Linked DNA regions of Homo sapiens. The protein of the gene in region 1 interacts with the protein of each later gene in a pairwise test. Each region holds a gene or a part of one and is shown in the gene's direction. Other genes may lie near its edges.

Region 1 (5,432 bases):
TTGATAGAGAACAGGAATTGAAATTTAAGATGATTGCTTTTTTTGCCTTTGTATTATTTAATGTACATTAGATAGTAGAAGATACTTGAAAGTTACTTGCAGTCTTTTCTTAACAAGTTCTTTATCATTTGCAGGGGTAATTGTTATCTCAGTACATATTTTAGATTATTTTTGTTGAAATTAATGATAGTTTATTTGTGTTGAAATTAATGATGGGTTAGGTAGTTGCAGAGAAATTGCTTAAGAACCCACCTTCAGTAGAATTACATATTGTTTGTACAGATTCAGATGTAATGACTGAAATCATAATTTTCAAAAGATAACAAAGATGTTAATTTACAGCATCTTTGCCCCAACACTTAGTATTTCAAAGATATTTCATTATGATATAATTTTGACAGGGTCGGTCAAATGGAATGACTTAAAAGTGATTCAAGATTTTACAACCTACATAGTTTTTTTTTCATAGAGGAATAAAGTAACAATGTTGATTCAATATATTAGGTGAATTTTCTTATATACCTAAAATATGTATGCTTTTAAAATTGTTTAAAGAGCACATCCTTCCTTTTCAAATATTAGGTGCTAGAGTGTGGAGTTTGTGAAGATGTCTTTTCTTTGCAAGGAGACAAAGTTCCCCGTCTTTTGCTTTGTGGCCATACCGTCTGTCATGACTGTCTCACTCGCCTACCTCTTCATGGAAGAGCAATCCGTTGCCCATTTGATCGACAAGTAACAGACCTAGGTAGGAAAAGTATTTGTATGGATTTAAGATTGAAAATTGTTCATGTAATGCAAATGTCATAGGAAACAATGTCCTTCCACTTGATTTTTAGAATGATAAAATTCCCAGAAAGTTTCAGAAAGCCTAAGTTTCTATTAAGGTCAATAATCTTCAAGCTATAAACTATCTCACTCTTAGTTACTAATTTTATTTTATCTTCTGAGATGTTTATATTCAATACTTATCTGTAAAGAGCTTTAAGACACCTGAGAAAAACGTGCTACCCTGATTCAAATAAATAAGAATGTGTATCACAGAGTGAATCATTTGCCTGAAGCCATAAACCCAATAGAACAATGTTTTCTTTACAAATAAATAAGCCAATAATGAAAATACAGATAAGTCATTTGAGTCTCACCATGTTTTTATTTACTAATATCAAGGACAGAAGTGTTTGTAGCTTGTGATAATTACTCTTTATTTTCTGTTAAAATGAGTTTGAAGGGTTTGTGGCTTTTTTTTGCAGTTTTCTGTATACTTTTAAAACTTTTCTTTACGTATTTCAAACTAAGTTATTTTCAGATACCAGATTTGGAAATAATAGCATTTACTAACATTTGAACAGTTATTTTACAAACGTAAGTTCTGTAAGTTTACTCTTTTTGATAAGGGAGTTTTCTCCAAAAGAGTTTAAGGTTGCCATTTTTTTTCCAGGTCAGTTGCACTATCTAAGACAGTTTTAATATATTCATACTATTTTTCAAGTGGAACACATTCAAAATAATTTATCCACCAAAAAAGGAAGCAAGAGTACCTATAATTTTAGGCTGGAAGACTTTGAAATGCTAAGAAACATGGTTTTAAAATATTTTCTGGAGAAAGAAAAGGATTTTTAAGGTTTTGGTGATCTTTGATGTATATAAATAGTCTATTTGCCTGACAACTAATAGACAGTAATAACATTATAGATAGCATTAACTTACCAGTAGCCAAGAAATAATAGGGATTGGGAAAGTCTCTGTACTTTTATTTGGTCTTTTATTATGTGAAATATGCATATATCATACTATTTCTTTATATAAAACTATACTTAGGCCAGGTGAGGTGGCTCATACCTGTAATCCAGAACTTTGCAAGGCTAAGATGGGTGGATCACCTGAAGTCAGGAGTTCAAGGCCAGCCTGGCCAAAATGGTGAGACCCCTTTTCTTCTAAAAATGTAAAAATTAGCTAGGCATGGTGGTGGATGCCTGTAATCCCAGCTACTTGGGAGGCTGAGGCAGGAGAATCGCTTGAGCCTGGGAGATGGAGGTTGCAGTGAGCCTAGATCACGCCATTGCCCTCCAGCCTGGGCAACAAGAGCAAAACTTGGTCTCAGACAAACAAACAAAAAAACTATGCTTAAAGAAATAGTAATGTTTTTCAAATAGAGAATAGAACCTTTCTTCTACTTTTTTTTTTTTTTTTTTTTTTAAAGCAGAGTGTTACTCCGTCACCCAGGCTGGAGTGCTGTGGCGCGATCTCAGCTCACTGCAGCCTTCACCTCTGGGGTTCAAGCGATTCTCCTGCCTCAGCCTCCTGAGTAGCTGGGATTACAGGCACCTGCCACCACGCCTGACTAATTTGTGTATTTTTAGTAGAGATGGGGTTTCACCATGTTGGCCTGGCTGGTCTCGAACTCCTGACCTCAAGTGATCCACCTCAGCCTCCCAAAGTGCTGGGATTACAGGCATGAGCCACCACACCTGGCTCTTCTACCTTTTTGAAGAGCACTTTACCTTCTCTACATTAATACCACAATGTGAAGAGTTACTATCCTCAATGTTTAACAAAACTAGAAATTTATGACAGGGAACTAGACTGAATACATCCATCCTCCTCTCTGACTTCTCTGAATCCTGAATCAGAATTTCTCTCTAGTCCAAGAAGAATATGAGTAGTTATTAATACCATTCAGCAATATTCCTGATTTTCTTCTGCTCATATGGTGAAATTACACTTCCTTGCCCTCTTACGCATCACTGTGTGATGTTCATTGATCAGTGAAATGTAAGCAGAAGTGAAGTGTTAGCATCCAGGTAGAAGTTAATAAGAGAAGGTTTATGATTTTCAAAGTAAATTCTTCTCCTTGCTGCAGTGAGGTGGTCCAGATGGTTGGAGGCTCGGTAGGCTGTGTCCCTGTTTGTGGTCAGTGGGGAACAGAGTCTCTCTTGTCTTCCCTAATCCCTGAGATGTTGCATGATGCAAAAAATAAATCTTTGTTGTGTTAAGCCATTGAGATTATAGAGTTGTTTTGACACAGAATTAAGTGATATAAATATTAGGCACTACCTAGTAATAATGCTAGAGGTTTATTTGTATATATTCATTATATAGTGACTGGATATTTAGAAAATTGTCAAGACTATATTTTTAAATGATCACTTAGTGTACTTCTTAACCTTTATGTAAATAGATAGAACTCAGCTTGTTGTAGAATATGTGTTAAAAATTAAGGAGAAAGCCTTCTAGGGGCAAGGCTGAGGATAGATATGTTCAGTCCAGTTTTTTTGGGAGAACCACAACACAGAATGGCTTTTTTTTTTTTAAGAGCCAGGAGGAAGGGGGGCCCTGCAGGCAATGACTCCATCAACCTTTTATATATTTATTCATTTAATGAATATGTATTAGGTGGCAGCTATATCAGATGTTATTTGTTGCATAGGAGTTTACCATAACAAATATTCCTTCTGCTAAAGGATCTGACTTTTATTCATAGGTTCAGGAAGAGTGTGTATGTTGTCCTGGGTTACAATGTTATATGTATTTCTTAAGGTAGGTTGCTGCAAAAAGTATTTGAAAATGCTTGTTTTAGCATGTATAGTAAAAGTCAATGACAAAATAGGACTTGTAAAATTAAATGATAGAGAAATAGGCTGGGCACGGTGGCTCACACCTGTAATCCCAGCACTTTGGGAGGCTGAGGCAGTCAGATCACTTTAGGCCAGGAGTTTTGAGACCGGCCTGACCAGCATGGCGAAACCCCATCTCTACCAAAATATACAAAAAAATCAGCTGGGCATAGTGGCACACACCTGTAGTCCCAGCCACTTGGGAGGCTGGGGCACGAGGATCACTTGAACCCGGAAGGTGGAGATTGCAATGAGCAGAGATCACGCTACTGCACACCAGCCTGGGCAACATAGCAAGACTCTGTCTCAAAAAAAAAGTAAAAGAGATTTAAATAATTTTTTTAAACTGTGGCAAAATATATGTATAACATAAAATTTGCCGTTTTAACCATTTCTAAGTTTAGGGACATTAAGTACATTCATATTGTTGTGCAGCCTTTACCACCATAATTTTTTTTATGTGTATTTAGATTTTTTTTTTTTTTTTTTGAGATAGAGTCTTGCTCTGTCATCCAGATTGGAGTGCAGTGGTGTGATCTTGGCTCACTGCAACCTCCACCTCCCGGGTTCAAGCAATTCTCGTCCCTCAGCCTCCTGAGTGGCTGGGATTATGGGCGCCTGACGCCACACCTGGCTAATTTTTGTATTTTTAGTAGAGACGGGATTTCACCATGTTGACTGGGCTGGTCTTGAACTCCTGGCCTTAAGTGATCTGTCCGCCTCAGCCTCCCAAACTGCTGGGATTACAGGCGTGGGCCAAAGCACCTGGCCAAAAAATAATAAATTTTAAAGTGTGTTTCTACTTGGAAGGCTGAAGGATTCTTCTGTTTTTTAAGAGAGCATTAACAAAGCAATTATTTTGGTATTAAAAATGGGGAAAATTTGAATTTTAAAAATTTAGACATTAACTACTGAACTATATTAGAAATTACTTTTGAGGTATGGGTAAAATGATTAATAGTCCATTTTGTTAGATTTAGTTTTTGTTTTTATATTTATTCTAGGTGATTCAGGTGTCTGGGGATTGAAAAAAAATTTTGCTTTATTGGAGCTTTTGGAACGACTGCAGAATGGGCCTATTGGTCAGTATGGAGCTGCAGAAGAATCCATTGGGATATCTGGAGAGGTATTGATCATACTTGGTGAAATATTTGTTACGAGCATGAATTTTTCTTTTAATAGATGCCATTATTAGCACAATATTACTTCATTTATTTCAGCAGGTAAATTTCTAGAAACACAACTTTTCATTACATTACAGTTCTGAAGGCCAACACTATTCCCAAGAGAAAAAACTAGAATTATTTGAAAATCCTATGCCTAAACTATGCTTTATGTGTGAACTTTTTTTTCCTTATCATAATTCAGTTCTACCAAGAATAAAGTGAAAAGAGGAAGAAGATTATGGAATAGTAAGAAAGATATGTAAGCAACAGTAGAGAAGAGGATGCAAAAGTAGTCAACAGTAAAACTCAATGAGAGAAAGAAAAACTCGATGTAAGAGGCCATTTAATACAGAGGGGAAAATGCCTTAAAGATAGCAGTAACTTCTGAGGGAATTGTTACTGTTATAGCTTCAAGAAAAGGTTAAACTTTGTATAGATGTACTGTCTTTATCCATACAGGTAGATGTCTAGTAAATATCAGAATCCATGAACACTGGATTTTAATAATGTAAAAGTATATTTTTAGCACTTATGTGTTTGCATAGCTGCACATATGTACTATAGGACATGGCTTTCGTAGGCTGTTATGGGTAAAAATATATTTGGAGTAAATATCAGTTAATGATTTTGGTGATCAACTTGCAAACCACAT
Region 2 (4,466 bases), on another chromosome or scaffold:
AGGATCACCTGAGGTCAGGAGTTCAAGACCAGCCTGGCCAACATGGTAAAACCCTGTCTCTACTGAAAATACAAAATTAGCTGGGCGTGGTGGCAGGGGCCTGTAATCCCAGCTACTTGGGAGGCTGGGGCAAGAGAATCGCTTGAACCTGGGAGGCAGAGGTTACAGTGAGCTGAGACTGCACCATTGCACTCCAGCCTGGGCCACAGGAATGAAACTCTGTCTAAAAAAAAAAAAAAAAAAAAATCTGGGCACAGTGGCTCATGCCTGTAATCCCAGCACTTTGGAAGGCTGAGATGGGTGGCTCACCTGAGGTCAGGAGTTCGAGACCAGCCTGACCAACATGGTGAAGCCCTGTCTCTACTAAAAATACAAAAATTAGCCAGCCATGGTGACGGTCACCTGAAATCCCAGCTATTCGAGAGGCTGAGGCAGGAGAATTACTTGAACTCGGGAGGTGGAGGTTGCAGTGAGCCGACATTGCACCACTGCACTCCAGTCTGGGCCACAGAGCAAGACTCCGTTTCAAGAAAAAAAAAAAAAGAGAGAGAACAAGCATCAGAACATATTATGATTATGATTATGATTATGATTATGATTATGATTATTATTATTATTATTTTTGAGTCAGAGTCTCGCTCTGTCACCCAGGCTGGAGACCAGTGGCATGATCTTGGCTCACTGCAACCTCCACCTCCCAGATTCAAGTGATTCTCCTGTCTCAGCCTCTCAAGTAGCTGGGACTACAGGCATGTGCCACCACGCCTGGCTAATTTTTGTGTTTTTAGTAAAGACAGGGCTTCACCATGTTGGCCAGGCTGGTCTCGAACTCCTGACCTCAGGTGATCCATCTTAGCCTCCCAAAGTGCTGGGATTACAGGCGTGAGCCACTGTGCCCAGCCCGCTTGTTCTCTTTAAAAAAAAAAAAAAAAAAGGCATGAGGCTGGGTGTGGTGGCTCATGCTTATAATCCTAGCACTTTCGGAGGCCAAGGCCAGAGATTGCTTGAGGCTAGGAGTTTGAGATTAGCCTGGGCAACATAGTGGGACACGGTCTCTACAAAAAAGTTAGTTGGGCATGGTGGTGTGTGCCTATAGTCCTAGCTACTTGGGAGGCTGGGGCAGAAGGGTTGCTTGAGCCCACAAGTTCAGGGTTGCAGTGAGTTATGATCAAGCGATTGCACACCAGCATGGGCAACAGAGCGACACACTGTCTCCTTAAAAAACAAAAAATCGTTATGACATGAGGCCAAAATAAAAATATCCTGTAGGATGTTGATAAAGAGTGGATGGGTGGCAACTATAGTTTGTTTTTCCTCTACTTAGTATTCAGCTCTTTAGTCAAAATTGCTGAGATTTTCTTTTTCAAAGTGTTGTTTGAATTACATTGGTAGCAGTTTTTACTGAGGAAAGACCTAGAGAAGTTTTCATTACAGTAAGTATATGTGTGAGTTTAAGTGTAAAACTTTGAAAGAGGAAAGAAACTAACATTTAGTGGACAGGCCCTAGCAGTGTTCTAGGTACTTACGTGTGTGTCATTTTCTTTCTTTTATTTTTCTTTTCTGTCACCCACTGACTCTCAGATATTTAATTTAATCCACCTGCCAACTATGTGAAATACATATCTTATCTCCACTTTACAGATGAGGAGACTGAGATTTAGAGATACTTAAATACCTTGCCCATAATTATACAGTGAACTCATATTTGAACTCAAGTCCTCCTGTGCTCAGAGTCTACAACACCACCATATTATCCTGGGAGGCCAGATAGGATAGTATGGTATAAGTTAGCAAGTTACTGTAAGAACTTGTGCCAGCAAGGCCAGCTGTCAGAGCTCTGATTCTAACTTTCACGTGTTAGTTTCCACATGTATGACCTTAGTTAATTTACTTATCCTCTCTGCACCTTAGTTTCCTCATCCCTAAAGTGGAAATAATAATAATACCCACCCCAAAAAGTTGTTGTGAGATGAAATTAGATAATATATTTTAAAAACACTGATGCTCATGCCGTGTGCGGTGACTCACGCCTGTATTCTTAGCACTTTGGGAGGCCGCGGCAGGTGGATCACCTGAGGTCAGGATCACCTGAGGTCACCTGACCAACATGGTGAAACCCCATCTCTACTGAAAATACAAAATTAGCCAGGCGTGGTGGCGCATGCCTGTAATCCCAGCTACTTGGGAGGCTGAGGCGGAGGTTGGAGTGAGCAAAGATCGCGCCATTGCACTCCAGCCTGGGGAAGAATAACAGTGAAACTCCGTCTCAAAAACAAAACAAAACAAAAAACACTGATGCTCACACCAGTAATCCCAGCTACTTGGGAAGCTGATGAGGAAGAATCACTTGAGGCCAGGAGTTCGGGACCAGTCTAGGCACCATAGCGATACCCATCTCAACAAAAAATTTGAAAAGTAGCTGGGTGTGTTGGCACACACCTCTAGTCCCAGCTACTGGAGAGGATGAAGCGGGAGGATCACTTTAGCCCAGAAGTTTGAGACTGCAGTGAGCTCTAATCACAATCACACTACTGCATTCCAGGCTGGGTAACTGAGTGAGACCCCATCTCTTAAAACAAAACAAATAAACAACACTGATGGAACACAGTAAGAGGTCAGTAAATGTTAGCTTCTGTTATAAAGGTATTTCAGACAGCTTCTCTGGGGTTAGTGCAATTGATTATTAGAGAGGGTTGTGCCACCTGAATTGAAATATAAATAATCTAGCACTGTCCACCATGACAATGTGGAGAAAGCAAATTTAACATATGGGTTGTTTTAGTTGAACATTTAAAGCATCACTTTTGCATAAAATATACCAGACCCCTTTTGTGCTATGAAACTATGGAACCCACTCTTTGGAACTCCATCTTGACTGGATGAGGTTTTGGCTTCCCTGGGACTTGAAGGAAAAGGAAGCTAGCTGTTGGCGCCAGGCCCCCGAGATTTAAGAATCCCATCTTGCGGCCAGGCACGGTGGCTCATGCCTGTAATCCCAGCACTTTGGGAGGCCAAGGCGGGCGGATCACGAGGTCAGGAGATTGAGACCATCCTGGCTAACACGGTGAAACTCCATCTCTACTAAAAAATACAAAAAGTTAGTGGGGCGTCGTGGTGGGCACCTGTAGTCCCAGCTACTCGGGAGGCTGAGGCAGGAGAATGGCATGAACCCGGGAGGCAGAGCTTGCAGTCAGCCGAGATCATGCCACTGCACTCCAGCCTGGGCAACAGAGTGAGACTCTGTCTCAAAAAAAGAAAAAAAAAAAAAAAGAATCCCGTCTTGTTTTGAGCTGGGAGCAGTGGCATGCACCTGTAGTTCCAGCTACTCAGAAGTCTAAGAGGGGATTGGAGGATCTCTTGAACCTAGGAGTTCAAGTCCAGCCTGGGTAACATAATGAGACCCTGTCTCTAAAAGAAAAAAGAATTCTTTCCTGTTTCTCCACCAGGTCTGGCCCCAGTACTCTGAGGAGAATGTGTCCTTGTCCTGTTGGAACTCAGTCAGATGCCTGAGGGTCAGACTCTAGGTTACTTATTAATCAGAGGGGACTTTTTTTTTGGAGGGGGACAGGGTCTCGCTCTGTCACCCAGGCTGTAGTGGCACTGTCATGACTTACTGCAGCCTCAGACTCCTGGGCTCAAGCAATTGTCCCTGCTCAGCCTCCCAAAGTGCTGGAATTACAGGCATGAGCCACCATGCTTGGTTGATAGAGGACTTTTCAATAGTGATTTATAGTTCAGAGAACTTTTCACACACAGTATTTCCATTTATTGTAGCAGTAGGCCACAAGCTTTGAAGTAAGGATCTAATGATGTGCTTATTAAAACTGCAGGTTCCCAGGCTCTGACTACAGAATCTGATTCAGTAAGTCTGAGTTTGGGCCTAGGAATCTGCATTGTCAAAATTACTGGAGAAAACATTGTATTGCTTAGATCTGGAAAAGATGAGGAGGTAGCTAGATGTGGTAGTGTGCGCCTGTAGTCCCAGCTACTCAGGAGACTGAGGTGACGGGATGCCTTGAATCCAGGAGTTTGAGGTTACAGTGAGCTATGATCGTGCCACCGTGCTCTAGCCTGGGTGACAGAGCAAGACCCTGTCTCTAAAAAATAAATAAATAAATAAATAAATAAATAAATAAATAAATGAAAGATGAAGGGATGAATGAAGAGACCTAGGGAATTAAAAAAGAAATAGGGCTTGTATTTTTTAGTCTATCAAATGACGTACTATTTGCCTCTGTTTATATTTAATGATTTTGGGGGGTATCTTAATTCCCTCTTCTTCTTCTTCCGTTTTTTTTTTTTTTTTTGAGACAGGGTCTCCCTCTGTCGCCCAGGCTGGAGTGTCGTGGCGTGATCTTGGCTCACTGCACTTCTGCCTCCTGGGTTCAAGCGATCCTTCCACCTCAGCCTCCCAAGTAGCTGGGACTACAGGAACGCACCACCACACCCGGCTAATTTTTGGATTT

What was found. The genes of interacting proteins can lie anywhere in the genome.
Region 2: the proteins of TRIM23 (region 1) and MORN4 interact in binary tests that used the Homo sapiens proteins (3 or more experiments, as listed by UniProt).

What each region holds. Positions count from the first base shown.
Region 1 is NC_000005.10:65,613,406-65,618,837, reverse strand, and holds part of TRIM23 (E3 ubiquitin-protein ligase TRIM23), read left to right. Parts: intron 1-582; coding exon 583-745; intron 746-4,618; coding exon 4,619-4,740; intron 4,741-4,982; exon of another isoform or gene 4,983-5,111; intron 5,112-5,432.
Region 2 is NC_000010.11:97,622,535-97,627,000, reverse strand, and holds part of MORN4 (MORN repeat-containing protein 4), read left to right. Parts: intron 1-4,466. UniProt on the Homo sapiens protein: Plays a role in promoting axonal degeneration following neuronal injury by toxic insult or trauma.